Homo sapiens: one gene and its partners. The protein of the gene in region 3 purifies or fractionates together with the protein of the main gene of each other region. This does not show direct contact. Each region holds a gene or a part of one and is shown on either strand. Other genes may lie near its edges.

Region 1 (4,426 bases), on a different chromosome or scaffold from region 3:
TAACATACTTTCAATCCAACAATTCTATATAATGATAAGTTTGCACAAAAATGTAAGTATTAGCACATACAAAGTTTATTTATAAATAGAGAAAAGTTACTATCAGCCTCAATATTCAAAGGTCTGTTAACTAAACCACAATGCATTCATACAGGCAATATTGTGCAGCTATTAGAAGCCACAGAGAAGTACAGGTATCCCTTTCTACCTGAACTCAAGCTCCCTGACTCAGAAACCAAGTAGATTCAGATAGCAAGGGATACCTGTATTCAATGACATGGAAAGATGTTCATGATATATTAAGTGAAAAAAAGGGTTACAAAACAACATATACTTTATTTTTATTAAAAGTAGCATATTTACATATATTTTTGTATACACATAAAAATGAGACTTTCTGTACCATCTGCAATGTTCTTGTCTTTTTGTGATTCTTCTAAATGATAAAAACTCTCCTAAAAAATTAAATACAGGATTTTCTTCCAAAGGCTGCAAGGTAGGATTTGGACACTAAGTCCCGGCTCTACTGGAGGACTAAGCAGTACTGTGGTTAAAAAGGCAAGCAGACAGGAAGGACAAAAGAAAGGGTGAATAAGATGACCTGAGATAAAGGGTGCCTGGGGGCTTTACACCACCAGAGGCCCTGTTGCCCAGTAACAGGTACTCTCTCAAAACTACCTTTCACTCCAGCCAGGCCAGTCTCTCCACCATCTTCCCCTTCATTCAACATAGTCATTCATGTTTCCATTATGCTGTTCATTCTAATTCTCTGATGTTAACTGTCCTCCATCATACATGGAGACACCACTGATTTCTCCACTCCTTAAAAATAGCAATAGTTTCAAATTCAGAGATCTACTTAAGAGAGTCACCCAAATCAGCTACTTGAGAGGGTGAGGTGGGAGGATCTCCTGAGCTCAGGAGTTCAAGGCTCCAGTGAGCTATCATCATGTCAGAGCACTCCAGCCAGGTTGACAGTAAAACTCCATCTTTATAATTTTTTTTTTTAAAGAGTTACTCAAAATCTACATTTTGAGACTACCTAGATTTTGACATGTTTCTAGTCAGCACATTGGGAGTGCCAGACAGCCAGCTCCAGAATATTAAAGAGATTCCCCACAACTGGCTGCGTGCAGTGGTTCACGCCTATAATCCCAGCACTTTGGGAGGCCAAGGCAGGAGGACTGCTTGAGGTCAGGAGTTTGAGACCAGCCTTGTTAATATGGCGAAACTCCATCTCTACTAAAAATAAAAAATCAGCCGGATGTGGTGGCACACACCTGTAGTCCCAGCTACTTGGGAGGCTGAGGCACGAGAATCGTTTGAACCCTGGAGATGGAGGTGGCAATGAACCAAGATCATGCCACTGCACTCCAGCCTAGGTAACAGAGCGAGCCTCTGTCTCAAAAAAACAAAACAAAATAAAACAAAAAACAAAAAAAACCCCACAAAAAATAAAAAAACAAAGGAGATTCCCCACAAGCAAAATCATACAAGATCAAAATGTAATCAATGTCTAAGATGTGCCCACTTCCATAGAGATACCCTGAGTATAAATTTGGGAAGCAAAAGGATAAAATGGCAGTAAAAAAGCAGAAATCAAATAATCTGTGTTGAACTCTATCTAAAGTCAGAATAAGAGAAGGCATCAGGTTGGTAACGCAGATAGATTAGGCTGGTTCACTCACCACCCACTCCCAACCACTTCTCCCTTTCCTTTCTCTATTGTAAAAGATGTAAAGGTAAAATACAGTACCCCATCTTATCTATGGTTTGGCTTTCTGTGGTTTCAGTTACCTGCAGAACAGCACAATAAGATACTTTGAAAGAGAAAGACCATATTCACATAACTTTTATTACAGTACATTGTTATAACTGTTCTATTTTATTATTAGTTATTATTAATCTCTACTGTGCCTCATTTATAAATTAAGTTTTATCATAGCTATGTATGTATAGAAAAAAATATATACCAAACAGTACATACACGGTTTGGTAGTACCCATAGTCTCCGGTGTCTACTGAGGGTCTTGGAACATATCCCCCATGAGTAAGAGAAGACCTTGATTATTCCATCTTTCAGCCTTCTTGAAGCTAAGAGTGGCCACTGATACTTTGGCCAAAGAGGCAAAAGCCCCTGGAGAGGGCTTTTATCATGGTTATAAAAACTGGTAATTCTGGAATTATGTTAAGTACACATGTACTCTGTACAGTTATGTACAAATTCCCATGACAGCTTATTTCCCAGGGAAAATTTAACTTGGACATAATGCCTGGAGGTGCAACCAAAAGAATAAAAACAGAACGGGAAGAAAGGACGAGCCTAGATCCTTGCGGAGATTGGTGCTGCACAGCCCCAGTCTGCCAATCTCCACACTTCGTTATGTTAGAAAAATAAACTCGTATTTCTTAAAGTCATTGGACAGCAAGTTTTCAGTTCTTTGCAGCTGCAGGCATCCCTGACATAGTCAGCATGGAGCTTAGAACAGTGTTTCTCAACTATCTTTACTCTGTAACATTTATGAGGGATAGAATCCATTCCCTTCATTAATCGTTACTCATTACAACAGTCATTCTCAACCTAGCAGGCATCAAAATGTGGAATGGAGGTGGAGAAGACTGGCTCTGTACCTTGGTGACTACCAAAGCAATGTCTTCTTGTAAGCATATGTCTAGGAGGCAATTCAATCTGATCCTTTCAAAAATGCAATAAGGATTTTTTGTTCTAAGGTTAAACAACCAAATACTTCCTACCTAACTTGTTCCTTTCTTTCAAAGTCAATTCTTCAAATTTTATTCCTTATTAGGAAATTACTTAAGTAATTATTACTTAATAACCTCTCATAATAAGCACTCTATTAAAAAAGCAGGAGGGGCTGGGCGCAGTGGCTCACTCCTGTAATCCCAGCACTTTGAGAGGCTGAGGTGGGTGGATCACTTGAGGTCAGGAGTTTGAGATCACCCTGACCAACATGGTAAAACCACCATCTCTACAACTAGCTGGGTGTGGTGATGCACGCCTATAGTACCAGCTACTTGGGAGGTTAAGGCACGAGAATCGCTTGAACTCAGGAGGCAGAGGCAGCAGTGAGCTGAGATCACACCATTGCACTCCAGCCTGGGTGACAGAGCAAGATCCTGTCTCAAAAAAATAAGTAAAATAAAATAAAATAAAATAAAATAAAAACCAGGGTACTGACCCCACATAAAAACCAACTTTCTGTTTTGAAAGTATTTATAGTCACAGGTATTCTATTATTACATTTATCATGGTTATAAAAACTGGTAATTCTGGAATTATGTTAAGTACACATGTACTCTGTACAGTTATGTACAAATTCCCATGACAACTTATTTCCCAGGGAAAATTTAACTTTCAGATTATCAATCATTCCCTTTCAATGCATTTTACAGTTGTTTTTGACAGTTTCCTACTGATTCCTTAAATTTGAGAAATTTAGGTCATCTTCCTTCAAGTAAGCACATTTCTACAGATTATACACAGAAAGTATTTATACTCAATTTTCAAAACATCTTATGTGCTCCTTTAATTTATTAAACTATGAAATTTGGGTTAAAAGACTTCCAAGCCAGTATCACTAGATTATTTTGGAGAAGTAAATGGGAAATAAAATGACTATTCTTGTAAACGATCAATCTAGCTGTTTCTTTTCAAAATTAATGCAAACTCACCATCAGTGAAGGGATAAAATTAATGTGAAAGACATACATTAAGAAAATGACCAACTTCCTTTAACAAACGTATCAACACAAATCACTGCAGCTAAACATGCAAGGTAAAGGATATTGCTCTCATTTTGGCAAACTGTTTATTTTTAAATGACAGCCTAATTCTAAAATGGGGATTCTTTAAGATACTCCAAAATAGCTGTATTTCACAATACACAAAAAATATTGCACATAGCAGTCAAGAATATTTAAATTCCTCAAAATCTACAGAAAAATCACAAGAACAATCGTCTTAATTAAATAATGCAAGAAAAAACAAGATTAAAGCTCCTTCCAAAACTGACTGCAACAGATGTGGCATTCAATTTATCTTTTCATGTCATTGTCATGGAAAAGTTCACAAAGAATAATGAGTCTTCTAAAGAGGTCTCTCTATTGGCCCAATTGAGAAAGTTACTCAACTGTTAGTAAAGTCAAAACTTCCATTCAATGCCCTATAGGTCGCCCACATTCACTCTTCTGAGACCACAGAGAAAGGTTTGACCCTGATAAGGTCAATGAGAATGTCTGCCAAAACTGCAGGTGTGTAGGTTGGGGCAAACCATGCCCAATACTTCAGAAAAATTCAAATCAATGGGTCCTGTTGGTGATTCCTATTCAACAGATGGCAAAAAGAATAGATGTGGGCACTGTTCATTTGACAAAGTAAAACAGGCCAGGCATAGTGGCTCAGGCC
Region 2 (4,056 bases), on a different chromosome or scaffold from region 3:
CCCTGAGCCAGCCAGATCGCTGCTAGCTGCTGCCCATGATGGTTGAGGGCCACTCAACCTCAATGCCAGCATATCAGGTGGTTTTGTCAGCTTTTCTGAACTTAAAGCCATCGCCATGGCAACTCGAGTAAAAAATAATTACCTATAGTGTCTGTAGGCTTGTACCCTTCAGTATAAGTGTAGAAAAGACTGAAACAAATCAAGGATCTAATGTTTAAAAGGCAGGTTACTATCCAGATTCCCATCTGAAAACTGGTCAGGTCAGTAATTCTACCTGTGGCTAGGAGGATTCTTCTGAGTATTAGGCAAGGGAACATATGTCAAACGCTTAGCACATTGCCCAGCACGTAAAGCGCTTAGCCAGTGTTTGCAGCTGTATGATAATCCCTTCTAAGAAGCACAGTCCCACTCTACAAATGAGGAAACAACGAGAAGTGACATTCTAACCCAAAGTCACCAACATTCACTCCAATGGATACTGAGGCTTCTCCTGTGCCACTCTACAACACGTAGTGATCAAAAATGAGGTAGACCTCCCCTACACCAACGCAGACACCCAACCTGCTCCCACAGCTGTAGGACTGGGAATGGCAGAAAACGTAAGAAATCCAGAGAAGTTCCCCAAAGGACCAGAGACCACAGAACCTTGGTTGCCCCACGGCACTCAGAAGTGTGAGCCATCTCATGGGCATGACCGTATTGAGCATAGAGAGTGCTGAATTTACCAAAATCTAGACCATTTGGATTTTTCTTCACTGATTTATATAAAGGGATGTGGGAAGCTTTTTTGAAAGAGCAGCATTTACCTTGAAGGGCTTTCCTAAAAGAGATGCCTTTAAAAAAGCCATAGGATTAGTGGTTAAGTCTCTAACATGTGAACAGCATGTGCTGCCCAGCTACTGAGGTGAAGAGTCTAAGCTAGATTTATTTCTGAAGAACAAAGACCAAAAGAATGCCTTTATAGCTCTATATCTAGTCAGTCACCTTGGGCTGAACTACAGAAAGAACTGGACGACTAACACCTAAAACGCTGAAAACAAAGACACATACACTTCCAGGTGTGGATTTTTATTTTCACAAAAAGACAACAATGTCTTCCCCACATACAAGTATTTACAAAACCCAACTGATTCACCCATCTAGAACCTGGGTTTTTTTCCACTTCTCAACATAGTTGGGAACATGGAAACATTAATACCCACACAATTCCCAGAGATGGAATTTATCCATCAAACAAACAGTGCAGATTACCTAAAAGTGCACTTACCTGCACAACTCGGTCTAAGAACCTTGTGAAACAAACCTCATGGCCAAGGTTTCATGAATCTATTTGGTTTCATACCATGCAAACCTGAACAAGTGTGCTGCTACACTAAACTGAAAATCGGTTCTCATTTTACAATTAAAAAGGTTCTCAACACTTTAGCAACTATACAGAATATGAAGGTTTATTTCAAAAAAGATTACATTTTTTTAAACCAGGATACACAGATGCACTTAATGTAACAGTACCTTCTGCAAAAATAGGTTACATAATACTCAGAAATGCAATGAACAATCTTATTCTCTAAAAATTAGACAGCTAAGACTTCTTAAGTGTAGACAGCCTTCAAAATGGAGGCTGAAAATGCTTGGTAAAAAGAAGTAACTCTAGAGCCAGACACCACAGAGCTAAGGCTGCAAATTAAACCACTACCACACAGCTGCAAACTACTCTTTATATTCACACAGCGTTAAACAAAACGACTTCAATTCCATCTTTTCAAATGTGCCTCGGTGCTGCAAGAAAAAAAGTTGAATGATACACAAAACTATTAAAAGTTACAACAGAACTATTTAAACATCTTCTCCAAAATTGAGAAAAGCAATCATGTTAAATTTTTAAAAAGAAAAGTCTGACAGAACTCTCAAGCAAGTCAGAGGTCCTCTTCATAAGTAGTCAAGTAAAGTTTACAGGAGATTTCAATAAATTATCTTAAAACCTTGGCAGAGAGCTCATTTTCAGAATCGTCGCGGAGGTCCACCCTTAAATGGCTTAAATCCGGAGCCACTTCCTCTTGGCATGGAATTGCCACTGATTTGTACAATTCTATTAATTGGGGATGCGTTACTGAAAAAGGTTTAAAAGAAAAAAACATCAGAGAACAAAGAACAAATCATCACTGCAAATACCAGGCACTGTTCTTGGTACTTTATCCAAAATAAATCATTTACTCTTTTCAACAGTCCCGTGAGGTCTGAACCATTGCTAACCCCACTTTACTGAAGAAACAGATCTGGAGGTTGAGGAACTCTTCCAAGGTCACAGAGCTAATAAAATGGTGAAGCAGAGATTTGAACTTGGGCAATCTCACTTTGAAGCCCCATTACTTCAGAAGCCAGTTGTGGATCTGCACGTGGACTACAGCAGCAGATCTCTTAAGTGTGGACCCCAAACCAGCAGCAGCAGCACCAGCTGGGTGCCTGTTAGAAATGCAAATTCTCACCCCCATCTCAGACCACAGAGAAAGAAACTGAGGGTGGGACTCCCAGCAACCTGTGCTTTTCTTTGTTTGTTCTTTTAAATATATATATTTTTAGACAGGGCCTCACTCACTTCACCGAGGCTGGAGTGCAGTGGCACATTCATGGCTCACTGCAGCAGCCTTGACTTCCTGGGCTCAGGTGATTCTCCCACTTCAGCCAGCCACCAGAGTAGCTAGGACTACAGGCAAGTGCCGCCATGCTCAGCTAATTTTTTTTATTTTTCTTAGAGACAGGGTTGCGCCATGTTGGCCAGGCTGGTCTTGAACTCCTGGGCTCAAAAGATCTGCCAGCCTTGGCCTCCCAAAGTACTGAAATTACAGGCAGGAGCCACCACGCCCGGCCAACCTGTGTTTTAACAAGCCCTCCAGGTGATTCTGTTGTTTGCTAAAGCTTGTGAACTAAATTATAGAAGTCATTTAAGAATATTTCTGGAATCTTTATGTGTAATGCAACAGAGCAGATGTTAGTAACACAAAAAAGCAGACCCCCTCCCCCGACAAAAAACCTTTAACAGGCCGGGCGCAGTGGCTCACGCCTGTAATCCCAGCACTTTGGGAGGCCGAGGCGGGCGGATCAAGGAGAATTGCCTGAACCCGGGAGGCAGAGGTTGCAGTGAGCTGAGATCATGCCAATGCACCCCAGCCTGGGTGTCACAGCGAGACTCCATCTCAAAAAAGAAAAAACTTTAACAAACCAGGAGATAAAAATCTACAGTGAAGGCCGGGTGTGGTGGTTCACACCTATAATACCAGCACTTCGGGAGGCTGAAGCTGGAGGATCACCTGAGGAACAGGAGTTTGAGACCAGCCTGGCCAACAAAGTGAAACCTCCATCTCTACTAAAAATACAAAAAAATCAGCTGAACATGGTGGCACACGCTGTTGTCCCAGTTACTTGGGAGGCCAAGGAAGGAGAATCACGTGAACCCAGGAGGCGGAGGATGCAGTGAGCTGAGATAGTGCCACTGCACTCCAGCTTGGGGGACAGATACTTCGTCTTGGAAAAAAAAAAAAATCTACAGTGAAATGGTTCAGGCAGAATAAAACTAGATTATAAGGGCCAGGCTGAGGAATCTGGGCTCAATCCTGTGACCTGGAGCAGCTGCTTGTTGTGGTTTTAGAGCAATAAATGGTATAATAAAATGGGAGTTTCAACAGTTCAATTTACAAATGGGGTAATGGAACACAATAATTGGGAAGATCAGATAGAAGCTAAAATGAGGAATAAGGGATAGCTATGATAAACTTTCTTTTTGTAGAGACAGGGTTTTACCATGTTGCCCAGGCTGGTCTCAAACTCCTCAGTTCAAGTGATCTACCTACCTTGGCCTCCCAAAGTACTGGGATTACAGGCATGAGCCACTGTGCCCAGCCTGAGAAACATTTAAAAAAAAATAGAGCCACACGGCCGGGCGCAGTGGCTCATGCCTGTAATCCTAGCACTTTAGAAGGCTGAGGTGGGCAGATCACAAGGTCAGGAGTTCAAGACCAGCCTGGCCAACATGGTGAAACCCCATTTGCTAAAAATACA
Region 3 (4,881 bases):
ATGAGGAGAACAGGAAACTGCAAGTGAAATGTAGAGAATCTCCAATTTAGAAATTACAGGCTAATAAATGTAACGGCAATATTGAACAAACCTTTTTTTTTTTTAATTTTCAAGCAGCCAAGACATAAAGAAAACCATATTGGTTTCACAGTTCTCATATAATGGCTGGAGGCATATGACTTAATCCAAGAGACAACCTATTCCTTACCTTTGAAACACCTGTGAATATTATCAAAAGGACACACACAATAATTTACAAGAGATAACAAGTTTAATAGAAGGTGTTCTTCGAAGAAGTTTTTCAACATCATTCTGTGGAGTACTGCCTTTTATATTGACAGTTGATAAAACCCGAAGGTAAAATATTAAATTATTTATAGGTAAAGGCAATTCAGCGCAGTTATTCATCTTTCTTGTTAATTTAACATGATCCAAGTATATGTACTAAGGAATTTAGAAAAATGAATGGTAGGAGTGGTACTGAAAGTATCCTCACATACCAAATCTCTTAGGAAAGGTTTTTAAGATGCAATTCCTACTTTAAATAGCCACTGCCTAAAGTGTTAATTTTCTCAGTGACTAATTGAGAAAACACCAATATGCTTACTTCTTTGGGCAAGAAGTTAATACGACCACTCCCAACATTTAGTCAAAAGTACTATCAAATCTGTAGCATGTTCACAACATATTAAAAAATGAAACAAGAATACAAATAAAGAAAATAAAATACATTTCACATTTTTTGAAAAAACATTCATTTTTGCATAATAATTTTAAGTGAAATTATGCAGATGTTAATTGCATCACATATGTTTTCCCCTGCTGTACTGACTTCTCAAAAACAAGTTAGAACTTTTCACTGTGATAGATTCAGAAGAACCATGTTGACATTTTCATGAAAAAAAATAGAGTATTACTGAAATAAGAAGGGAAATATACTCAATCAATTGCCTCACCTTGACTGTTCAGGAAAAAAAAGTGGAGGAATACACTTTATTCTACAGATTTCTAAGGATATTACATCAAAAAAAGTACAAAATGACAATTTTACAGTTAGAAATTATGTTCTATTCTAAAATGAATAAAGTTTTCTAGTTTTGCATTTTTTTTTCAAAAGAATTCACTTCAAAAAAAAACTTGTGAATTAGCATAAAATAACCCCTTATCACAAAGGAGCCCAAACTAAGGAGGCACCAACTAAGGCTGAAACAAACTGAGCATTCTTATTCTCAGCACCTGCGCCTGGCCTGGCCCAGGGTGACATGCAGGGGCTTGGAGCCCACTATGCGGCCATTCATCTCATCCACTGCTTTGGTAGCCTCTTCAAAAGAGGAAAAGCAGACCACACCAAATCCTTTGCCTTGCCCCACTTCCATCATCACTTTGGCCCGACTAATTGACCCAAAGGAAGAAAATTCCTCCTTCAGTTTTTCATCATTGATTGTCTCATCCAAGTTCTTAATATAGATAGGCACCCCTGGGGGCCGACTTTTTTCTTTTAACCTCAGCCGTTCAAATCTCCGCCTCAACTCAGCCAGGCGTTCAATTTTCTTCTGTGCTCGCCCTACATAGAGGACTTTTCCATCGATGGACTTTCCATGCAAGTCTAGCACAGCCTTTTGGGCAGCCTCGTGTGTCTCATATCTCACAAATCCAAAGCCTTTAGATTTCCCACTGGCATCTCTTATTACTTTAACACTCTCAGTTGGCCCATATTCACAGAAAAGTTCCTTCAGTTTTTCGTCATCTATGTCGTCTCCAATGTTTTTAACGAAAACATTGGTGAAAGTTGCTCTATCCCTGGTTCTGACCTCAGCCGCCCGCTCTTCTGGGAATTTGAATCTGCCAACATACACCTGGCGGTTGTTGAGCCGCACTCCATTCATGTGCCAGATGGCTCTATTGGCAGCGGCCAGGCTGTCAAAGTGAACATAGGCATAACCCTTAGAGCCGTTGTCATCGCATACGACTTTGCAGGACAGAATGTTCCCAAAAGCAGAAAATAAGTAAAACAGGGCCCTATTGTCTATGGATTTGTCCAGGTTTTTGATGAATATATTTCCCACTCCAGACTTTCTTAAGCGGTCATCTGGCTGAGACCACATAAGGCGGAATGGTTTTCCATTAATCAAATCAAAATTCATGGTGTTCAAGGCCCACTCTGCATCCGCGGGAAAGCGGAAGTTAACATACCCATAGCCCAGGGGGCTGCGGGTCACCGGATCACGGCAGATTCGGGTGAATCGCAGAGGGCCAGCAGGCCTGAACTTCTTATAGAGCATGTCCTCGGTGACATCTGGGTCCAAGTCACCCACGTACAGAGCGGCCTTGAGATACTTCTTTTTCTTGCCAGCAGGATTAGGCTCCCCGCTCCCCATCTCTCTGAGCACTGGGAGGAGGTTCTCTTTGAAGAGAAAAAAGGCTGCTTTCTCTAAGCTATGGGCCAAACAGCTGTTCACGAACAGAAAAAGCCAAGGCAGGCAAAAGGAAGCTAAAAGCAGACTCAGAATCACTGTCGAGGCTGAGAAAATGAAGTTCAGAAACAGCTGGTCAGCAGGCTCAGAACAAACACATCAGACAAAAAGGCGCCCCAAATACGAATCTATTCTCCCTGCGGGGACTTAAAATTGTCACCCGTTCAGATTTAAAATCAGTTTCAAAAGCCAGTACCAGAAACGTAATTTTCCTGTCCCCGTGAAATTGTGAGAAGCCACCAAGCAGCTGGCTGGTTCCCCACAACTAGCATTGCAGACAGAGGCCTCCCGACCCGCTTTCTGCATAAATATAGGCCTAGAGCTCCTGTTGGTTTAAAATGATATCAACAAGGGCAGGGACCGAGCGCGTATTCCTCCGCCGGCTGCCTGGCCAGTCTCGGGCTGGCTAGCCTTTCGCTAAGGCCTCTCCGCACTCAGCGTCTGCGAAAGGGTACACCAGACACTTGGTGCGATAAGACCGGCAGGCAGGCTGCAGGCAGCGGATAGGACACAGAGACAGACAGACAGACACACGCGCGGGGGATCGAAGACCGCCCAGATACCCAAGATGCCCACTGGGTACGGACCGAGTGAGGCGCGGTGATTTCAGCAGCCTGAGGCTCGAGGCAGGTCCGGAGAGACTGACTGGCAAACGCGCAGTGAGTGGGTCAGCTCTGACGCGAGGCGGGTCTGGCCAGATGCGGGGCGGAGTCAGCGAAGAAGGGCAGATGCGCGGCGGGCGGTCCCAGCGCAGACCGATGGGCTGGGGTTTCTCTCCGCAGGACAGTCCAACGGAGGGACCAAGAGCCAGTAGCAGTGATAGGGAGGGGGGACAGGCGGGGCGCGAGAAACCCGGAACCGTGCTAAGTAACTTCCCGCTTCCTCTGTACCAAGATTTAAAAAAAAAGAGAGAGAGAGAAGGGGGGAGAGAGAGAGAGAGAGAGAGAGAGAGAGAGAAGGGGAGAGAATGAGAGAGAGAGAGAGAAGGAGAGAAAGAAAAATCTAAGATGGCTTTTAGATGTTTCTTATATTTTAAATGTTATTTATTATTTAAAACACTATATTTAAGCCGAACATCTAAAAATCACATAAGAAGATGACGACCTGGGCAAAAATAATAAGTTTTAAAAAACTAATTATCAAAATCATTTAAGCTTAGGGAAAAGGATAGGTTGCATACTTTCCTGAGTGCATTGGAAAGTCAAAGTTTACAAATGTCCTGGCCTCCCAATCCAGTGCTAAAGGATCACAGGGTCAAGTAGAACACAGGACCATGTTGCCTTTGGCCTTTAGCCTTACTTCATTAATCTCCAACATAATGGTAATATTTTCCTCAGGTGGTAGGCAAAGAGATCTTTTCTCTGATCCCATAATACTAAGGTTTTAATGATTGGAGAGCCATATAATGGCTTTTGATGGTGTTTAGTGCCACAAAACGTTGAAACTGTTGAGCTGCCGCGAGAATTACAGTTACAAAATCTCAGTTAAAGAGATAAAAGCCACAGAATCAATACAAAATATGTAATTAATATTTACAGATGAAATAAACATGTTAAGATATATGCACTTTACACAATTATGAATTTCATCATGAGTTGTCAACTTGAAACCCTTGAAGGAAACAGTGCCATCAGACTGGACTCAACTCAGCAGTTTCTCAACAATATCTCTCTTCAGAGTATTTGAGAAACCCTTTTGGAGAGAAATTTTGACCGTGTTTTCAGAAATTCACTGATATCTAGCATGCGCAAACAACACTTCAAGAGGCTCCTTCCACAATTCCTACCCCTCCAGAAAAATCCAAACAAAACATCTATCACTACTCTTAGGCTGGAAAAGATCCTGGGAAAAAAAGATTGCAAGAGAAGGACATTACCTTAGTGGGTGTTTTCCTAATAAGTCCTCAGAATAAGAGGCTAAATTAACGTATTCATTCACTTTATACATTTTATAGTGTCTATTAGACTGTAGAGTTGACATTAAACCTCATTATTTACTCAAAAACTTAGTAATTTTCTTTACTATTTTTTTTTTTTGCTTGCTTTCTAGTGTTCTTGGTTAACTAAGACATGGAGATTTTGAGAAAAGGCAAATATGAACAATGATATTATAGACTAATAAATGGGTTTTACAGTGTGACCAGAGTGACCAACATGTGGAAACACTTGTGAACATCTGCCTAGTTTATTGCATTTTGAATATATTTTTATAAACATATTTTCTTTTATGCGTAATTAACAATGGGTTAGAATTCTAGTCTGTTTTGGACTTTTCTCATTTTTAAAACTGCCTTATTGAAAATAGTAAAATAACAACATAAATCCAATTTCCACAATCTCATCATTGATTCAAATCAATATTTTCATCTGTTCCTGTAACCAACTAAATGTTGTCCATATTCAAATTT
Region 4 (4,426 bases), on a different chromosome or scaffold from region 3:
TCACTCTCTTTAAGGGACAGGGTCTCATTCTGTTGCCCAGGCTGGAGTGCAGTGGCCTGATTACAGCTCACTGCAGCCTCAAGCTCCTGGGCTCAGTCAGTCATCCTCCCGCTTCAGCTTCCAGAGCAATTGATACTACATGTGTGAGCCACTGCACAAGCCAATTTTTTTAATTTTTTTGTAAAGGCGAGATCTCACTACTGTCCAGTCTAGTCTCAAACTCCTGGCTTCAGGTGATCTTCCCTCTTTGATCTCCCAAAGCACTAGGATTATACGCATGAGCCACCACACCTGGCCTTAGACCTCTCTTTAAGAACCTAATCCAATGAGAATTAACCCTATATTTGGGAATTTGTCATATTATTTGTTCTAAATTGCTTCAGTTGGACTTATTCAATTGAATAAGTTCAATTCCCTTATTGAATATTACTGGACTTAAGTTATTACACTATACAACTGCTGCTCCTTCCATCTTTATTATAGACCTTTACCTCATTCACCACTCTAAAAACAAGATAACCCAACAGATTTAATCCTAAATGAACTATCAAAAACTTGTACAAAAATTTCTGTATATTTACAAAGATATTTATTACATGATCATTTATAATAATGATAAATTAAAAATAACCTAAGAATCTATAAACAGAAAAACAGTTAAGTAAATTATACACGTACACTTTTTTTTTTTCTTTTTTTTGAGATGGAGTCTCGCTCTGTCATCCAGGCTGGAGTGCAGTGGTGCGATCTCGACTCACTGCACGCTCCGCCTCCCAGGTTCACGCCATTCTCCTGCCTCAGCCTCCCGAGTAGCTGGGACTACAGGCGCCCACCACCATGCCCGGCTAATTTTTTGTATTTTTAGTAGAGATGGGGTTTCACCGTGTTGGTCAGATGGTCTCGATCTCCTGACCTTGTGATCCACTGGCCTTGGCCTCCCAAAGTGCTGGGATTACAGGCGTGAGACACCGTGCCCAGCCACATACACATTTTTGTTAAGGCTTAAAGAAAATACAACAAAATGGTAAGAGAGGTTATCTCTGTGTAGTGATTATTTTCTTATGTGTAGTTTCTATGTCTTCCAAATTTCCTAACATAAATCATTGCTAAGTTTGATAAGCAAAAAATTGTATTTTTTGTAGATCGTTAGGTTGTTTTTAATTTTAAAAAAATTATGGAAAGCTTTTGTTGAAATAACCCTTTAAAAGGAGTGTAACTTCTCAAGAATTATGTTGAAACCAAAAATACTTACCTTTATATCAAAAGGTGATTTCTTCTTGATGTGGGGAGCCCAGTATTTACATGCTAACTGCAAAGTAAACAGTATAAACAGTAAGTCCCAGATTCTTGCCATTGTAGAGCTGGAAGACAGATCATTTAGTGATAAGCGGTTTCTTAACAAGGCCCTACTCGGCACTGGGGGACAGAGTATATCTGAAGGCACTACACAGGCATGCAGGCCAGTTGGCATCCTTGACCCCAAACCACTAAATGCCAGTAGTGCTTTGCACTACAACATGCCATTGTGATATAAACAAACAAACAAAATCCTCTCCAACCACCCTAGAGAAACAATACAGCTCAGTTAATAACCACAGAGCCAAACATCTTCAGCATGGCAATAAGGAAACCCTGGTCTAGAAAAAATAAGTGATCTGCCCAAGATTACAGTTAGTTAATAGTTGAGCAAGTATTACAAATGATACTCAAAATCTTCATGAATGCTTTCCTAAAATAATGAGCCTTTAAATGATTAGTTCACACCCATAACAAAACCTAAAAAAAAAAAAAATTGTAGTCTATCGGCTGCTTATTACAGAGAATATAAGAGCTGGCATATTTCAGCAGATTAGGCTTGACCTGTAAATTGTGAAATTTAAACAAATATATAACTCTCTCTACATATTTAAAGAAACAGCATAGTCTTATTCATAGGGTTTTGTTTTAAAACCCAATTATAATCTCTTTAAAAATAGAAAACTGGCAAGCACAAAGACTCAATATATTTATAAAAAGGTGACTACTCTGCAGTGTCTGGCATATCAGAGGCACTAATAAAGTCTGATGGATGAATGGATGGACAAATGAAGCAAAATCTGAAATGTTACTTCTGTGAGGCTGTCCTCAACACTACCTGATGGTGACAATTGCTTTCTCCTTCTCTTCATTTTGTATATAACTCTTTATAATCTTACCTTTCTATATTATAAATATTTGATTGCTTATCCATCTTTCCTTCTCATTTAATTGGAATACTTAAGAGATGGGACTTGTTTTCTTTGCTTTTATAGCTCAGTGATGAACACATACAACACACTTAAAGAGCCTCCCAGGCAGTTAGGACACTGGCCCTGAGGAATAGCCTCTAAAAATATTACAGTAACTTCCTACTTAAATGACACCTTCCGGCCAGGCATGGTGGCTCATGCCTGTAATCTCAGAACTTTGGGAGGCCGAGGCAGGCGGATCACCTGAGGTCAGGAGTTCAAGACCAGCCTGGCCAACATCGTGAAACCCCATCTCTACCAAAAACACAAAAATTAGCCAGGCTTGGTGGTGTGCACCTATAATTCCAGCTACTTGGGAGGCTGAGGCAGGAGAATTGCTTGAACCTGGGAGGTGGAGATTGCAGTGAGCCAACACCAAGCCACTGCACTCCAGCCTGGGCGACAGAGCAAGACTCCGTCTCTAAAATAAATAAATAAATAACACCTTCCCAAATTACCAATCACTCTCCAACTCAATAGAAAATCTTCACCTCACCCCCAGTTATTCTGTGGTGTCCTCATTTCCTCATTCTGCTCCCTATGGGCATCATAAATTCAGTCATCTTCTTCTTACATCATACCATTAAGAGAATTGAGTCTAACCTGTTATGATGGACTCAGGAAATTACAAATAAAAATGTATATCCTATCTCTGATCTAAACTGCTTACTGTACATCTGTACTTGATTAAAGATTAGCAAACATTTATTAAGCATCTATCATGTCTCTTCTCTGAGTTTCTCCTTTCCCTTGGGGTCTAACGTGTAATGTCTCAAATATCACGATCTCACAGTATATACACATTGCCCTCCCTCAAACTCTCTAGTCTCATGTAAAATAAAAACTTTCCATTCTCTACTTAGTACAGCTATGACAGTATAAACTGTTTAAAGTAAACCTTACTGAAAGACAAAAAAGGAAATAAAAATATAATGGTATAAAAAAGTGAGGTCACAAAGTTCAGATCTCCAATCTCCTTAAAACTAAATTTTAACCTCTTGATCTCATTCATTCAATAAATAATTTTAAAAGTACCTTTTCTGGCTAGGTATGCCAGATGCTCAGAAATTAAATTAAAAAGAAAGAAGAAGAAAACACCTAAGCCCAAGATGTCCCCTCTACCTAGAAAACCAATTCCCCCACTTTCCTCTCTGCATTTCAAAGTCCAACTCAAATGATACTTTCTCAATGAGAAAATTCTTCTTGGAAATTCTTTCCTTCAACAAAGTAATAATTTCATGCTCTTTTCTCAAAGCACTTCCCTTATACCCCAATCTGGCATTTCTCACATTAAACTACAGTGAGTTCTTTAAGTCTCTTAAAGTCTCCTTCCACAGACTGTGTGTTAGATTGTGAGAACATGTCTGTTTTATTCCCCATGTACTCCCAGCACCTGGTATTGTACTAGGCACACACTGTGTGATGACTATTTGTCAAATGGATACATAAGTGAATTAATGAACAAATATGCCAGATCATTAAGATGTAGTGTGAGAAAGGAAGGTTCTCAGCAATCTTGGGCCATGGGAACAAACATTAATGTCTAATATTTGCCAGATACTGTTTAGGCTCTTCTAGAGTGCAAAGAAAGGTAATCTTTGCCTTCAAGGCCACCCTGGCCTTTTTTTTTTTTTTTTTTTTTTTTTGAGATGGAGTTCGCTCTTGTTGCCCAGGCTGAAGTACAATGGCGTGATCTCAGCTCACTGCAACCTCTGCCTCCTGGGTTCAAGTGATTCTCCTGCCTCAGCCTCCTGAGTAGCTGGGATTACAGGCATGCACCACCACGTCCGGCTAATTTTGTATTTTTAGTAGAGACAGGGTTTCTCCATATTGGCCAGGCTGGTCTCGAACTCCCGACCTCAGGTGATCCGTCCACCTCAGCCTCCCAAAGTGCTGGGATTACAGGTGTAATCCCACTGCGAGCCACAAGCCACCGCACCCGGCCCACCCTGGCCTTCTTTACATTCACACCTTAAGGTGTGTGTACTTGCTATTTCCTTGCTCTTCTCAAAACTGGCTCCTTCTTTGCATTCAGGTGTTAGCTCAAATGTCACCTCGGAGAGAACTTTCCTGACTGTCTTTCATACACCTCAAACCAGTCTGTCACAGCCCTGTTTCATTTTCCTCATAGCATTTATCAGTGTATGAAACTATACCGT
Region 5 (4,426 bases), on a different chromosome or scaffold from region 3:
TCATGTTCTAAGAAATACAAAGCTCTCAGGATCTGGCCCCTAAAGTCCCCACAGGCTACTTTACCTCCTATAAACACATTGTGAACTCTACCCTATAGCCCTGTCAAGGCTCAATTCTGCCATTGCCTATGCAACCCCCTCACTCAGTGTGCTGTAGAGCACTAATTTCAAGACTTGCCAGAATTTCTTTTTGTTTTTTGAGATGGAGTCTCGCTGTTTCGCCCAGGCCAGACAGTGGCGCGATCTCGGCTCACTGCAAGCTCCGCCCCCTGGGTTCACACCATTCTCCTGCCTCAGCCTCCCGAGTAGCTGGGACTATAGGCACCCACCACCGCACCCGGCTAATTTTTTATTTTGTATTTTTAGTAGAGACGGGGTTTCACCATATTGGCCAGGATGGTCTCAATCTCCTGACCTCGTGATCCGCCTGCCTCGGCCTCCCAAAGTGCTGGGATTACAGGCGTGAGCCACCGCGCCCGGCAAGACTTGCCAGAGTTTCTATGATCACTAACGAAAGAATGACTTTGATATAGTGTGGATATTTGTCCCTACCCAAATCTCATGTTGAAATGTAATCTCCTGCTGGTGGCTCACGCCTGTAATCCCAACACTTTGGGAGGCCGAGATGGGCGAAATCACTTGAGCTCAGGAGTTACAGACCAGCCTGGCCAATATGGCGAAATCCCATCTCTACTAAAAATACAAGAATTACCCGGGTGTGGTGGCACACGCCTGTAGTCCCAGCTACTCGGGAGGCTGAGGCAGGAGAATTGCTTGAACCCGGGAGGCAGAGGTTGCAGTGAGCCAAGCTCGTGCCACTGCACTCCAGCCTGGGCAACAACAGAGTGAGACTCCGTCTCAAAAAAAAAAAAAAAGGAAATGTAATCTCTGCTGTTGAAGGGTCACAGAATGGATCCCTCATGGCTTGCTACTATCCTTGTGATAGTGAGTAAATTCTCATGAAATCTTTTTTTTTTTTTTGAGATGGATTCTTGCCCTGTCGCCCAGGCTGGAGTGCAGTGGCACAATCTTGACTCACTACAACCTGCACCTCCTGGGTTCAAGCAATTCTCGTGCCTTAGCCTCCCAAGTAGCTGGGAATACAGGTGCACACCACCACGCCTAGCTAATTTTCTGTATTTTTAGTAGAGACGGGTCTCATCATGTTGGCCAGGCTGGTCTCAAATGCCTGACCTCAAGTGATCCGCCCACTTTGGCCTCCCAAAGTGCTGGGATTACAGGTGTGAGCCACTGCGCCCAGCCTCTCATGAGATCCTGTTGTTTATTTTATTTATTTATTTATTTATTTTTGAGATGGCATCTCACTCTTGTTGCCCAGGCTGGAGTGCAATGGCACGATCTCAGCTCACTGCAACCCGTCTCCCAGGTTCAAGCGATTCTCCTGCCTCAGCCTCCCAAGTAGCTGGGATTACAGGTGCCCACCACCACACATGGCCTTTTTTTTTTTTTTTTTTGAGACTGAGTCTTGCTCTGTTGCCCAGGCTGGAGTGCAGTGGTGTAATCTCGGCTCACTGCAACCTCTGCCTCCCGGGTTAAAGCTATTCTCCTGCCTCAGCCTCCCAAGTAGCTGGGACTATAGGCGCAGACTGCCACGCCTGGATAATTTTTTGTATTTTAGTAGAGATGGGGTTTCACTGTGTTGTCCAGGCTGGTCTGGAACTCCTGAGCTCAGGCAATCCGTCCACCTTGGCCTCCCAAAGTGCTGGGATTACAGGCGTGAGCCATCATGCCCAGCCAATCTTGTTTAAATTGTGTGGCACCTCCCCAACTCTCTCTCTCTGGATCCTGATTTTTGCCACGTGACACGCCTGCTCCCGCTTCACCTTCTGCCCCTGAGTGAAAGCTCCCTGAGTCCTCCCCAGAAGCCAAACAGATGCCAGCACCATGTTTCCTATACACCCTGCAGAAATGTGAGCCAATTAAACCTCTTTTCTTATAAATTACCCAGTCTCAGGTATTTTTTTATACCAATGCAAGAACAGCCTAATACAGACTCAATCCAACTTCCACCAGTGTTTACTGAGGCCTACTATGTGCGAAATGCTGGCCAGGTGCTATGCATCGTAAAAGCACACAACAGGCCCTGGCTACAGGGAGCTTCCAATCTAGTGACAAAATGATTAATTCAGAATAGACTAACCATGAGAACGAACAGGTATGGTACCGAGGAAGATTGGAGAAAGATTGCATTTGGTCAACAGAATTAGGAAAGGTTCATGAAGGAGATGGTATAAAATACTAGCCTAGAAAAATAGGATTTTAGAGGCCAGCCACGGTGGCTCACACCTGTAATCCCAGCACTTTGGGAGGCCGAGGTGGGTGGATCACTTGAGGTCAACAGTTTGAGACCAGCCTGGCCAACATGGTGAAACCCCGTCTCAACTAAAAAAAAAAAAAAGAATTAGCCGAGCTTGGCAGCTGGTTCCTGTAATCCCAGCTACTACGGAGGCTGAGGCAGGAGAATTGCTTCAACCCAGGAGGAGGAGATTGCACTGAGCCGAGATCGTGCCACTGCACTCCAGCCTGGGCGACAGAAGTGAGGCTCCATCTCAGAAAAAAAAAAAAGGATTTTAATAAGCAGGGAGTACGCAGAAGGGGGCACTGGGAGGAAGCATGGCAAAGGCCATGGCAAGGGTTGGCACAGATTCTAAGCACCATGCAAAAGGAAGGCTATAGGAAAGGCCTTTGGAAAACCACCCAAAGAAATGTGCAAGAACTACATACTGGGGAGAGACTTTCACAGCCCTCAGAGCTGCCCATCCCAATAAGGAAGGGCATGAGGTCACAAGCACAGTTGCAGTCTTACCTTTTCTGAATGAGTCCAGGCTGAACATTTCTGGCCAGGAGGGAAAGCTGGAATCCTGAGAACAAGGAGGGCCAAGAGGCAATGGTTAATATTCCTGGTCCAGCAACCCACAAAGAAGACTTCAGTAACATGGAGAGCACTGTTCAGAAAATGAAAAAAATGAAACTCTTCACTAATGAGCCCCAACTGCTGCTCCCCAGTCTTGAGGACTGGAAGGCCAGCTCCACTCTAGAGTAATTGTCTTTGCTTCTTTCTAATTGAGCACTTTCTTCCCTGTCCTAAAACTCCCCATATCCTGTTAAACAGAGGGAGATGCATTTCATCATGAGAGACATGTAGTTCTATCTAGTTCATCATAATACTTACAGGTTTCCTTCCCAGTTCATCATAATACTTGCAGGTTTCCTTCCTAGTTATCATAATACTTGCAGGTTTCCTTGGGACTTCCAGGAAGAAACGAAATTCTACATGGACCCCTTCTGTCATGTGGCATCAGGAAACAGGACTGATGACTGCCTTATGGGCAAACTGCCTTACTGGGCTTTCATAAAACCTAGTCAAGACCCTAAAAATGAGATTTGACTGACAGGATCAAAGAATAACTGTACAGTGATTCAGAATAAAAAGCTTTTCATAGCAGTCTCTATGAAATAACAAATATTAAGTTAAAGCACAACTATTAGCCAAAAGTTTTGGTGCATTTTGCTTATTAGTATATTTAACTGAGGACTATACTTAGAGATGACAAGAAAAAAAAGCAACACATCTGGTTTAACAATTTTGTTTTAAAAAATACTCAAACTCAGATTTATAGATGTTTTTATAATCCAGTACTCCTTGATTAGTGCAGTAACCTTAAATGGACTTTGTTTAAAAACATCTACACAGTGTTTAGCCAATCAGAATCATGTCCAACATTGATTGGAGTCTACTGGGGCCAACACTCCGGCTCCTGACTCCTGTTCCCTCTCATTCTCAAATTGTGGGGAGGTGGGGAGTGGAGGGCTGACCTGGGGCGGAATCTTTCAGGTCCATAGCAGGTCTGCCCTGATGGCCTCCACTCCCCAAGGGATGCTGGAAATTTCAGCCCATAGGATATGGTATATCACAGAGAAAACTTCAATACAATATCAACAATGATAACATTTACTTTAAGAAGTTACATTCCGGCCAGGCGCGGTGGCTCACGCCTGTAATCCCAGCACTTTGGGAGGCCGAGGTGGGCGGATCACGAGGTCAGGAGATCGAGACCATCCTTGCTAACACGGTGAAACCCCGTCTCTACTAAAAAAATACAAAAAAATGAGCCAGGCATGGTTGTGCGGGCCTGTAGTCCCAGCTACTCAGGAGGCTGAGGCAGGAGAATGGCGTGAACCCAGGAGGCAGAGCTTGCAGTGAGCCAAGATTGTGCCACTGCACTCCAGCCTGGGCGACAGAGTGAGACTCCGTCTCAAAAAAAAAAAAAAAAAAAAAAAAAGAAGTTACATTCCATAGACACCTTCTATCCAAATGAAAATAAAAAGTGTGTAATTTGACATTCTAATTTAAAAGAAAACCAGAATATTATAAAATCTAAAACATTTTAAGTGAATATTACTT
Region 6 (4,426 bases), on a different chromosome or scaffold from region 3:
GGAAAAGAGGCTGAAGAGGGTCAAGTAAATTAGCCTAAGTAAATCAGACTAAGGCAACTGCAGATCTCAACCACGGTGGGACTGCACCTAGCTTAAGCCCCCTGCTGACAGCTGCTCACATTTGGAAATGTACAGAGGCATTTTGTTTGTCAGTATGACTGAGGTGTTACTGGCATTTAGAATCCAAAGGCCAGGAATGCAAACCATCTTGGAAGCTGCCAAGAGTGTAGCACAAATAATTACCCTACCTCAAATAACAGTAGTTCCCCATTTAGAAATAATGAATAGAGGATGTAGGTCTGTACAGATAAAGTTTACATGCTTCTCACTATACCACGTTTACTAAAATGCCTACCATGTGCCAGACACTATGCTTTATAAACATAATACATTTAATGTGATCTTTGTGGGAACTCTAAAGATAGGTATTATTTCCCACATTTAAAAAACGAGGAAATTGAGTGGCTAAGAAACGTGACTAAAATCACAAAACTAGAAAATAATGGAATCTGTATTTGATATCACAGCTGCCCTGACTCAAAGCCACTACTAGGTTTCTACAGTTTAGACAGCTGATGAAATTCTATTTTAGAATAAGTCAAAAAAGTATATCCCTTTAACTTTCACCATTCAGCACTACTCTTCCACACAGTAGCCCCTCCAATGGTCTTTAGAAAGACGCCATGTTCCTAGAATCTACTTTCCCACAGGCTAAATCCTGTTTTTTCAACTTTCCCCCCATGTGTCACCATTAGGAGTTGTGATTTTTATTCCTGAACCCATGCTAAGTCTCTAGGATAATCACCATTTTTTTTTTTTTGACAGAGTCTTGCCCTGTCACCCAGGCTGGAGTGCAGTGGCACCATCTCTGCTCATGGCAACCTTTGCCTCCCGGGTTCAAGTAATTCTAGTGCATCAGCCTCCCAAGTAGGTGGGATTACAGGCATGCACCAACACGCCCAACTAATTTTTGTATTTTTAGTAGAGATGGGATTTTGCTGTGTTGGCTAGGCTGGTCTCAAACTCCTGACCTCAAGCAATCTGCTGGCCTAGGCCTCCCAAAGTGCTGGGACTACAGGTGTGAGCCACCGCATCCGGCCAGAAAATGTAAACTTTTTAAAGGCAATAGATGGTATAAGTGAAATTTGTGTGACTATATAAAACACCCTGGATAAAACAGGGATAGAACATTTATTGAATTGATGAATGCCTGCTTCTTAGCAGAGTTACTAGTGGCCTCAAAGTGATGACAGTTGTTTTTTAACTGCCAAAAATAAAAAGAGGAAAACAGACCTTGCCACTTTGTGGAGGCAGTTTAAAAAAAGAAAAAGAGGCAGCAACTACCTTAAAAATAATTTTTTTCTGGAGTAGTTAAGTATTCAAGAGATTTTAGATATTTTGGTACATTAATCCAGTTAAGCCAAATTATAATATGGCCAACAAAACACATTACAAAGCTTGTTATAGTAGTTTCTGGAAAGCTACTAGTACAAGTGGATAAAGTAAGTTATATTGATAACAATTAAAGTCATAAAAGTTAGATTTTTTAAAAACAGCCTTTTAAACCACTAATAGAGTGTTCACTGATATTAGAAATAAAATGTTATTCTGGCAGCACAGAAAGTCTTGTCCCTATTTTGTAAATTCTTTATAATTTTATTTTAATGAAATTAAAAATCATAAAGATGACTCATTCAATTGGTCATCTTTAAGGTTACTGAACTCATAGCCATCATTCAATAAATAAATAAATAAAACAGCAACAATAATAACAAACCTAGATATCCTTTATCAAATCTCTTATCTCAACAGGAAGAAATACCTTGGGTTCAGGTGACACATTCATCTCAGGTCTGAGACTCACAGAAAAAGTTTTAGACTGGAACACACACATAACATGGGCCCAAGTCTCTACCTCAAAAACTTAATCCTGTGATACCACCTCTGGCAATGTAAAATCTAGCCACAACAAACCATATGCAGATCCCCAACTAGGTCAGCCCTTTCCTTCCTCTCTTTCCAAATGGTAGTCCCTCTGCACTGAGCGCTTTTCTCTGCCTTATTCCCCTCCTTCACCCTCATCCATCTAGATCCAGCTTCAGCATCTCTTTCTATGGGAAGTCTTTCCTCCCAGGGCAGACTTTGTACCAGTCACAGGGTCCCCACTATATCCTGCATTTCTCTATTTAATTGTACCATCCACACTATATTTTGTCAGTTTACATATCCATTTACTCCACCTATGAATTTCCTGGTTGTCTCTTGTTTTAGCTCTGCATCTTTTACTAAGAGTTACAACAATCTCTTGGCTGTAGCATGTGCCTGATAAATGTTTGGTGAATACAAAGGAAAAATCAGTTTATAGACTCTTGGAAAGAGATACAATTTTCTGATAAAAAAATTATTTTCTGAAAGTTATAGGCAATATTTCCTTATTCTTTTAAATATATTTTTAAGGGGGGTGAGGGAGAGGACAGGAAAACCTCCTTAAAAAAAAAAAGGATACTTGGGGTTTTACGATCTTCATTAATAACAATCAGGTCTGTGAAATCTCTTGCGATGCACTGTGGAATAATTTTTTTCAGAGCCAGTCCTCTTCTGTAATAAACATGTGAGTTTGGTATAACTGTGGAGAGCTGTTCACAGAGTCGTACTGTTCTCTGCAAAACAAAATAACAAAAATTTTGAATAGTTTTCAAAAAAGAATAAAAATCTTATGTGGTACATATTCATAAGGAAAGAAATAATAATTATTATGATTAATAGAAAGCAACATTGAGGAAAGCATGAAACTCGAACAGTGTGTCCTCTTTTATCAAAGGCTGATCATCCTAAAGCAGTGGTTCTCAATTAGGGGCGATTCTGCTCCATCAGAGGACACATTTGGCAATGTCTGGAGACATTTTTGATGGTTATGACTGATGGTAGTGGTAGTGGTGTGTGGTTGCTACTGGCACCTAAAGCATAGAGGCCAGGGAAGCTGCTAAACATCCTGTAATGAACAGGATAGCTCACCATAACAAAGAATTCTCCAGCTAAAATGTTAACAATGTTGAGGTTGAGAAATCCTATCTTGAAGAATCATGTTTAGTAAACCTACATCATATTACCAGAGCTACGTTTTATTTACTTAGTCACAGGCATTCTTTAAGGCAATTAACTAATGGTTTAACTCTTCTGAACAGAGTACTTTAAATAGAAGTAATAAGAAAATTAAGAATTCAAGAACTAAATTAATCAATGTGTTTACCCCATGAGGTCTATCTGATGTTGTGATGAGAATCTTGGGAGAAGTCTGTTTGTTGAAGTAAGAAGCAAATTCATCTGTAGCTTCATCATAAGCGACCTGAGAACAGAGAAGAGGAATAATTTTACATCAAAGAAATACTCTACTGGGCCAGAATTCTAAAAGTAGCATCAGCAGGACTGTTGGACACTGAGTATCTAGCTGATAGGGGCTTTAAAGACAGACTAGGAAGGACTGACATTAATGGACACGTGAAGAGAATGGATGAGTGGATTTCTCCTGTGTAAAATACAAGTACAAAACTGAATAAAATTGTCAGAAATCACTTCAGGGCAGAAACTGAGATGTGTTTACTCTTGAACTACTTTCATTTCCCTCATCAACTTGGTTAGTAAAAACAATAACCACAAAAAAAACAAAACAAACAAACAAAAAAAGAACCAAAAAAAACTAATGAAATTACGAGAAGACAAATCTTCCATTGAGAGACACTCAGATTTAAACATTAATGAAAGTAGTACCTTTTAAAATTTGTGGAATATACCAAAAGTGGTAGTCTGAAAGAGTTTTATGGCTATACCTGCTCATATTAGAAAAAATATATATTGAGCAAATCAATAAATACAGAATAAACTCAAAGGAAGCAGAAGAAAATAATAAAGATAAAAGGAGATATAAATGAATTAGAAAACAAAGATTCAACAGGATCAAAGAAGAAAGTACTCAGAAAAGACTAAGAGAATAGATATCTTGGTAAAAACTGATTTAAAAAAGAGAAAAAGCCAAAATAAAATAATATTAGGAACGAAAAGTGGACATTACTGTAGTCTCACTCATGAACACAGATATAATTAATTCTAAGCAAAGAATTAATAAATCCAATTTGGTTATGATGTTTAATGCAGTAAGAGAAAAGCCACATAATCACCTCAATATTTGCAAAGAAAACATCTAATAACATTCTACATTCATTCATGACAAACAAAACAAAACAAAATCATAAGAATAAGTAAAATTTACTTAACCCTTAACTCATAATAATCTATCTCTAGTGACACAAATATTAATGTTGACTCATTGGAAGTATTCTTTTGAAAATCAGGAACGTGGCAAAGATGGCACTGTTGATTTTTCTATTTATTTGACATTAGGCTAGAAGTTCTAGAAGGCACAAAAATG
Region 7 (4,426 bases), on a different chromosome or scaffold from region 3:
AACAAAAATAAAATAATTTGCCAGGCATGGTGGCACATGCCTGTAGTCCTAGCTACTTGAGAAGCTGAGGCAGGAGGATCCCTTGGGCCCAGGAGTTCTAGGCTGCAGTGAGCTATGATTGTGTCACTGTACTCCTACGCTAGCCTGGGTGACAAAGTGAGACTCGGTCTCTTAAAAAAAAAAAAAAGCCGGGTGTGGTGGCTCATGTCTGCAATCCCATCACTTTGGGAGGCCAAGGTGGGTCAATCATCTGAGGTCCAGAATTCAAGATCAGCCTGGCCAACATGGTGACACCCCATCTCTACTAAATATACAAAAATTATTGGCCGGGCGCAGTGGCTCACGCCTATAATCCCAGCACTTTGGGAGGCCGAGGCGGGTGGATCACGAGGTCAGGAGATCGAGACCATCCTGGCTAACGTGGTGAAACCCCGTCTCTACTAAAAATGCAAAAAATTAGCCGGGCAAGGTGGCGGGCGCCTGTAGTCCCAGCTACTCGGGAGGCTGAGGCAGGAGAATGGCGTGAACCCGGGAGGCGGAGCTTGCAGTGAGCCGAGATTGTGCCACTGCAGTCCAGCCTGGGTGGCAAAGCGAGACTCCATCTCAAAACAAAAACAAAAACAAAAATTATGCAGGCATGGTGGCGAGCGCCTGTAATCCTAGCTACTCGGAAGGCTGAAGCAGAAGAATCGCTTGAACACGGGAGATGGAGGTTGCAATGAGATTGCTCCATTGCACTCCAGCTTGAGCGACGAGAGCAAGGCGCCATCTCAAAAAAAGAAAAAAAAAAAAAGGAGGTATCCAAAATAAAACTAATACCAAGTCAGGACACAGATGGGAGAAGTTCCTTCTGGTCTCATGACTAAATTTCAAGATAAAAGGCCTCTTGGGTGGGCAGCAACTTTGGCTGAAGAGTGCCTCATCTGGATTTCTAGAAACAGCAACACATGATCAAAATCATCCTAAAAGTGGAAGAAAATTTCTCACAAGGGCCGAGGCATCAAGAATCTGGTTCACTTAGATGTGCAGGTTGTAATGTAGAGAAAATTCATAATTTCTGTCCTGAAATATTCTCCCCTGTGTTTCCTATGTTTCTAACTGTAGTAATAAACTTCCTGGCAAAATTCTGTGGATGGAATTCCTTTACCTCATTAACAGAGTAACAGTAAATCCAAGTTTGAGCAGGATAGACCTGATTTAAGTCTGTTATTTCAATACAATTCTCTCTCTCAAAGAGCATCCTGTTTTGTAGAATTATACAATTTATATAGTATAAATTATACAATCACTAATAGATAACTAATAGATTTAGAGGTACCCACTGTGAACTTTAAACAACTTCTGGTCCTATTTCTTTACTTCTTAAGTTGCAAATTTGCTTAAGAAAATAGCCTGAGGTCAACCATGGTGGCTCACCCCTGTAATCCCAGCACTTTGGGAGGCCGAAGCGGGCGCATCAACTGAGGTCAGGAGCTCGAGACCAGCCTGGCCAACGTGGTAAAACCCCATCTCTAGTAAAAATTAAAAAAAAATAATTAGCCGGGCAACCATGGTTGCGCGCGCCTGTAGTCCCAGCTACTCAGGAGACTGAGGCAGGAGAATTGCTCGAACCTGGGAGGTGGGGGGTTGCAGTGAGCCAAGATCGCGCCATTGCACTCCTGCCTGGGTGACAGAGCAAGACTCTGTCTCAAAAAAAAAAAAAAAAATGGCAAGAAAATAGAAAGCCCGGCCAGGCACGGTGGTTCACACCTGTATCCCAGCACTTTGGGAGGTGGAGGTGGGAGGATCACCTGAGGTCAGGAAGTCGAGACCAGCCTGACCAACATAGAGAAACCCTGCCTGTACTAAAAATATAAAAATTAGCCAGGCATGGTGCCGCTTGCCTGTTATCCCAGCTACTTGGCTGGCTGAGGCAGGAGAATCGGGGGAACCCAGGAGGTGGAGGTTGCGGTGAGCAGAGATCACACCATTGCACTCCGGCCTGGGCAACAAGAATGAAACTCCATCTCAAAAAAAAAAAAAAAAAGGCCGGGCGCAGTGGCTCACGCTTGTAATCCTAGCACTTTGGGAGGCCGAGGCCGGCGGATCACGAGGTCAGCAGATCGAGACCATCCTGGCTAAGATGGTGAAATCCCGTCTCTACTAAAATAATACAAAAAATCAGCCGGGCATGGTGGCAGGCGCCTGTAGTCCCAGCTACTCAGGAGGTTGAGGCAGGAGAACAGTGTGAACCCGGGAGGCGGAGCTTGCAGTGAGCAGAGATTGCACCACTGCACTCCAGCCTGGGCGACAGAGCGAGACTCTGTCTCAATATAACAAAAAAAAAAAAAAAAAAAAAGAAGAAAGAAAGAAAATAGACAATAGAAAGCCGCCAGGCAGGGTGGCTTACACCTGTAGTCCCAGCACTTTGTGGGGGCTGAGGCAGGATAGCTTGACCCCAAGAGCTCAAGACCAGCCTGGACAACAAAGGGGGCCCCTGTCTCTACAAAAAAAAATTAAAAATAACTAGCCGGGCATGGCTAATTCCATGGAATGACATGCGTGCCTGTCATCCCAACTACTTGGGATGCCAAGGCAGGGGAATTGCTTGAGTCCAGGAGGTCAAGGCTGCAGTGAGCTATGATCTCACCACTGCAATAGAGCAAGACTGACAATCTATCTACCTATTTAAATAAACTAATGTAAAATGTATTTATTTAAATGAATTAAATAATATTAAATAAATATATAAATGGAAGCCAAGGCAGCCAGGTTATAAGTGGCACTCTGGTATTATGAACCAGAGGAAATGAGTCTATCCATGTTATTCATTTATAATGCCCAGAAATCTTGCCAGAAGTCAACTAGCCAGTTAGTAACAATACCTGCACTAGAACCCAAGTCTCTCAAAACAGTATGTTTCTACACCACAATCTCTTTTATCTAAGTTACCTAAGTTATTTAACTGCAAATAGACTGTGGTCCTGTTTCTTTACTCCTGAAGTTGTAAATTTGCTTAAGAAAATAGAAAGCCTGATTATGTCTGTAATCCCTGCACTTTGGGAAGCAGGAGGATCGCCTGAGGCCAGCAGTTCAAGACCAGCCTGGGAAACACAGAGAGACTCCATCTCTTGAAAAAAGAAAGAAAAGAAAAGAAAAGAAAAGAAAAGAAAAGAAAAGAAAAGAAAGGAAAGAGAGAGAGAGAGAGAAAGAAAGAAAGAAAGAAAGAAAGAAAGAAAGAAAGAAAGAAAGAAAGAAAGAAAGAAAGAAATTAATTGTGGGAGAACAGTGCAGAGTCAGTGTTGGGAAGAGACCATGGTTACTACACTATGCCAGGTCTGAAAGATGGTCTTCCTGCCAGTGCAGAATGGATTCCATCCAAAGACAGAAAGAGTTGCCTACACAAGACAACAGCAAAACTGAAATTTCCATGAACCATACCATACAACTAGTATCACAGTGTTCTTAATCTCCAGTGAAGACTGGAGAATGAAGGCACCAATAGCTTAACTGTTAAATATTTTTCACAGGTCATTTGCAATTAAAGTTCCCAAGGCTTACCTTGACAGTTTTTAAAGTTCTATTATCATTATTATTATTATTAATATTATTATTTTAAACGTGGTCTTGCTATATTGCCCAGGCTAGAATGCAGTGGCTATTCACAGGCACTATGACAGGACACTACAGCCTCAAACTCCTGGGCAAAACTGATTTTTCCTGCCTCAGCCTCCCAGGGAGCTAAAACTACAGGCACACACTACCATGTATGGCTTCGAAGTTTTAAAATCTATGATACTGGTTTTATGATCAACAAAGAGTTCCTACTTGGTAATTCACTTAATTGTCTGTAAGTCTAGAAGTAGAGAGGTGAAACAGCAAATAAGATGATTCACTAGGGTTTTCTTTCTTTGCTAAATTTTAGAGTGCTTGCCACTGGGCTTTAAAAAAGAAAAAAAAGAAAAACTTTATGAGGTCTTCACTTAACCATGTTCTCTTTAGTTAGTAATAGGAGTAAACAAACAGCTCTTTATAGCGAGGAAGGAATTATGCCAATATTAAATCCAGAGCAAACTTTTTTTCTGCAAGTGTCAAAATTTATCAACAATTAATGAGGAGTATTTCTGTGCAAAGGCAAATGAATGAATTAACTCAACACATATCTCCCTCTTTGGAGAGTTCCTCTGAAGAAATGTTAACATAACATAATGGGTGCTTGTAACAATCACCGTACTTTTTTTTTTTTTTTTTTTGAGACTGAGTCTTGCTCTGTCACCCAGGCTGGAATACAGTGGCTCAGTCTTGGCTCACTGCAACCTCCGTCTCCCGGGTTCAAGCGATTCTCCTGCCTCAACCTCCTGAGTAGCTGGTATTACAGGCACGCACCACCATATCCGGCTAATTTTTGTATTTTTAGTAGAGACGGGGTTTCGCCATGTTGGCCAGG

Evidence for each region.
Region 1: the proteins of PABPC5 (region 3) and IREB2 purify together in Homo sapiens (affinity purification with mass spectrometry; one large-scale study listed by BioGRID and IntAct). This does not show direct contact.
Region 2: the proteins of PABPC5 (region 3) and SLTM purify together in Homo sapiens (affinity purification with mass spectrometry; one large-scale study listed by BioGRID and IntAct). This does not show direct contact.
Region 4: the proteins of PABPC5 (region 3) and AQR purify together in Homo sapiens (affinity purification with mass spectrometry; one large-scale study listed by BioGRID and IntAct). This does not show direct contact.
Region 5: the proteins of PABPC5 (region 3) and DHX30 purify together in Homo sapiens (affinity purification with mass spectrometry; one large-scale study listed by BioGRID and IntAct). This does not show direct contact.
Region 6: the proteins of PABPC5 (region 3) and RPF1 purify together in Homo sapiens (co-immunoprecipitation; one large-scale study listed by IntAct). This does not show direct contact.
Region 7: the proteins of PABPC5 (region 3) and LARP1B purify together in Homo sapiens (affinity purification with mass spectrometry; one large-scale study listed by BioGRID and IntAct). This does not show direct contact.

What each region holds. Positions count from the first base shown.
Region 1 is NC_000015.10:78,440,644-78,445,069, reverse strand, and holds part of IREB2 (iron-responsive element-binding protein 2), read right to left. Parts: intron 1-4,426. UniProt on the Homo sapiens protein: RNA-binding protein that binds to iron-responsive elements (IRES), which are stem-loop structures found in the 5'-UTR of ferritin, and delta aminolevulinic acid synthase mRNAs, and in the 3'-UTR of transferrin receptor mRNA.
Region 2 is NC_000015.10:58,877,998-58,882,053, forward strand, and holds the end of SLTM (SAFB-like transcription modulator), read right to left. Parts: intron 2,111-4,056; coding exon 2,002-2,110; 3' UTR 1,053-2,001; downstream 1-1,052. UniProt on the Homo sapiens protein: When overexpressed, acts as a general inhibitor of transcription that eventually leads to apoptosis.
Region 3 is NC_000023.11:91,433,075-91,437,955, reverse strand, and holds the start of PABPC5 (polyadenylate-binding protein 5), read right to left. Parts: upstream 3,118-4,881; 5' UTR 3,062-3,117; intron 3,054-3,061; exon of another isoform or gene 2,957-3,053; intron 2,522-2,956; 5' UTR 2,379-2,521; coding exon 1,230-2,378; 3' UTR 1-1,229. UniProt on the Homo sapiens protein: Binds the poly(A) tail of mRNA. May be involved in cytoplasmic regulatory processes of mRNA metabolism. Can probably bind to cytoplasmic RNA sequences other than poly(A) in vivo.
Region 4 is NC_000015.10:34,962,982-34,967,407, forward strand, and holds part of AQR (RNA helicase aquarius), read right to left. Parts: intron 1,310-4,426; coding exon 1,253-1,309; intron 1-1,252.
Region 5 is NC_000003.12:47,809,113-47,813,538, reverse strand, and holds part of DHX30 (ATP-dependent RNA helicase DHX30), read right to left. Parts: intron 2,883-4,426; 5' UTR 2,856-2,882; coding exon 2,828-2,855; intron 1-2,827.
Region 6 is NC_000001.11:84,488,553-84,492,978, reverse strand, and holds part of RPF1 (ribosome production factor 1), read right to left. Parts: intron 3,347-4,426; coding exon 3,251-3,346; intron 2,661-3,250; coding exon 2,507-2,660; intron 1-2,506.
Region 7 is NC_000004.12:128,064,078-128,068,503, reverse strand, and holds part of LARP1B (la-related protein 1B), read right to left. Parts: intron 1-4,426.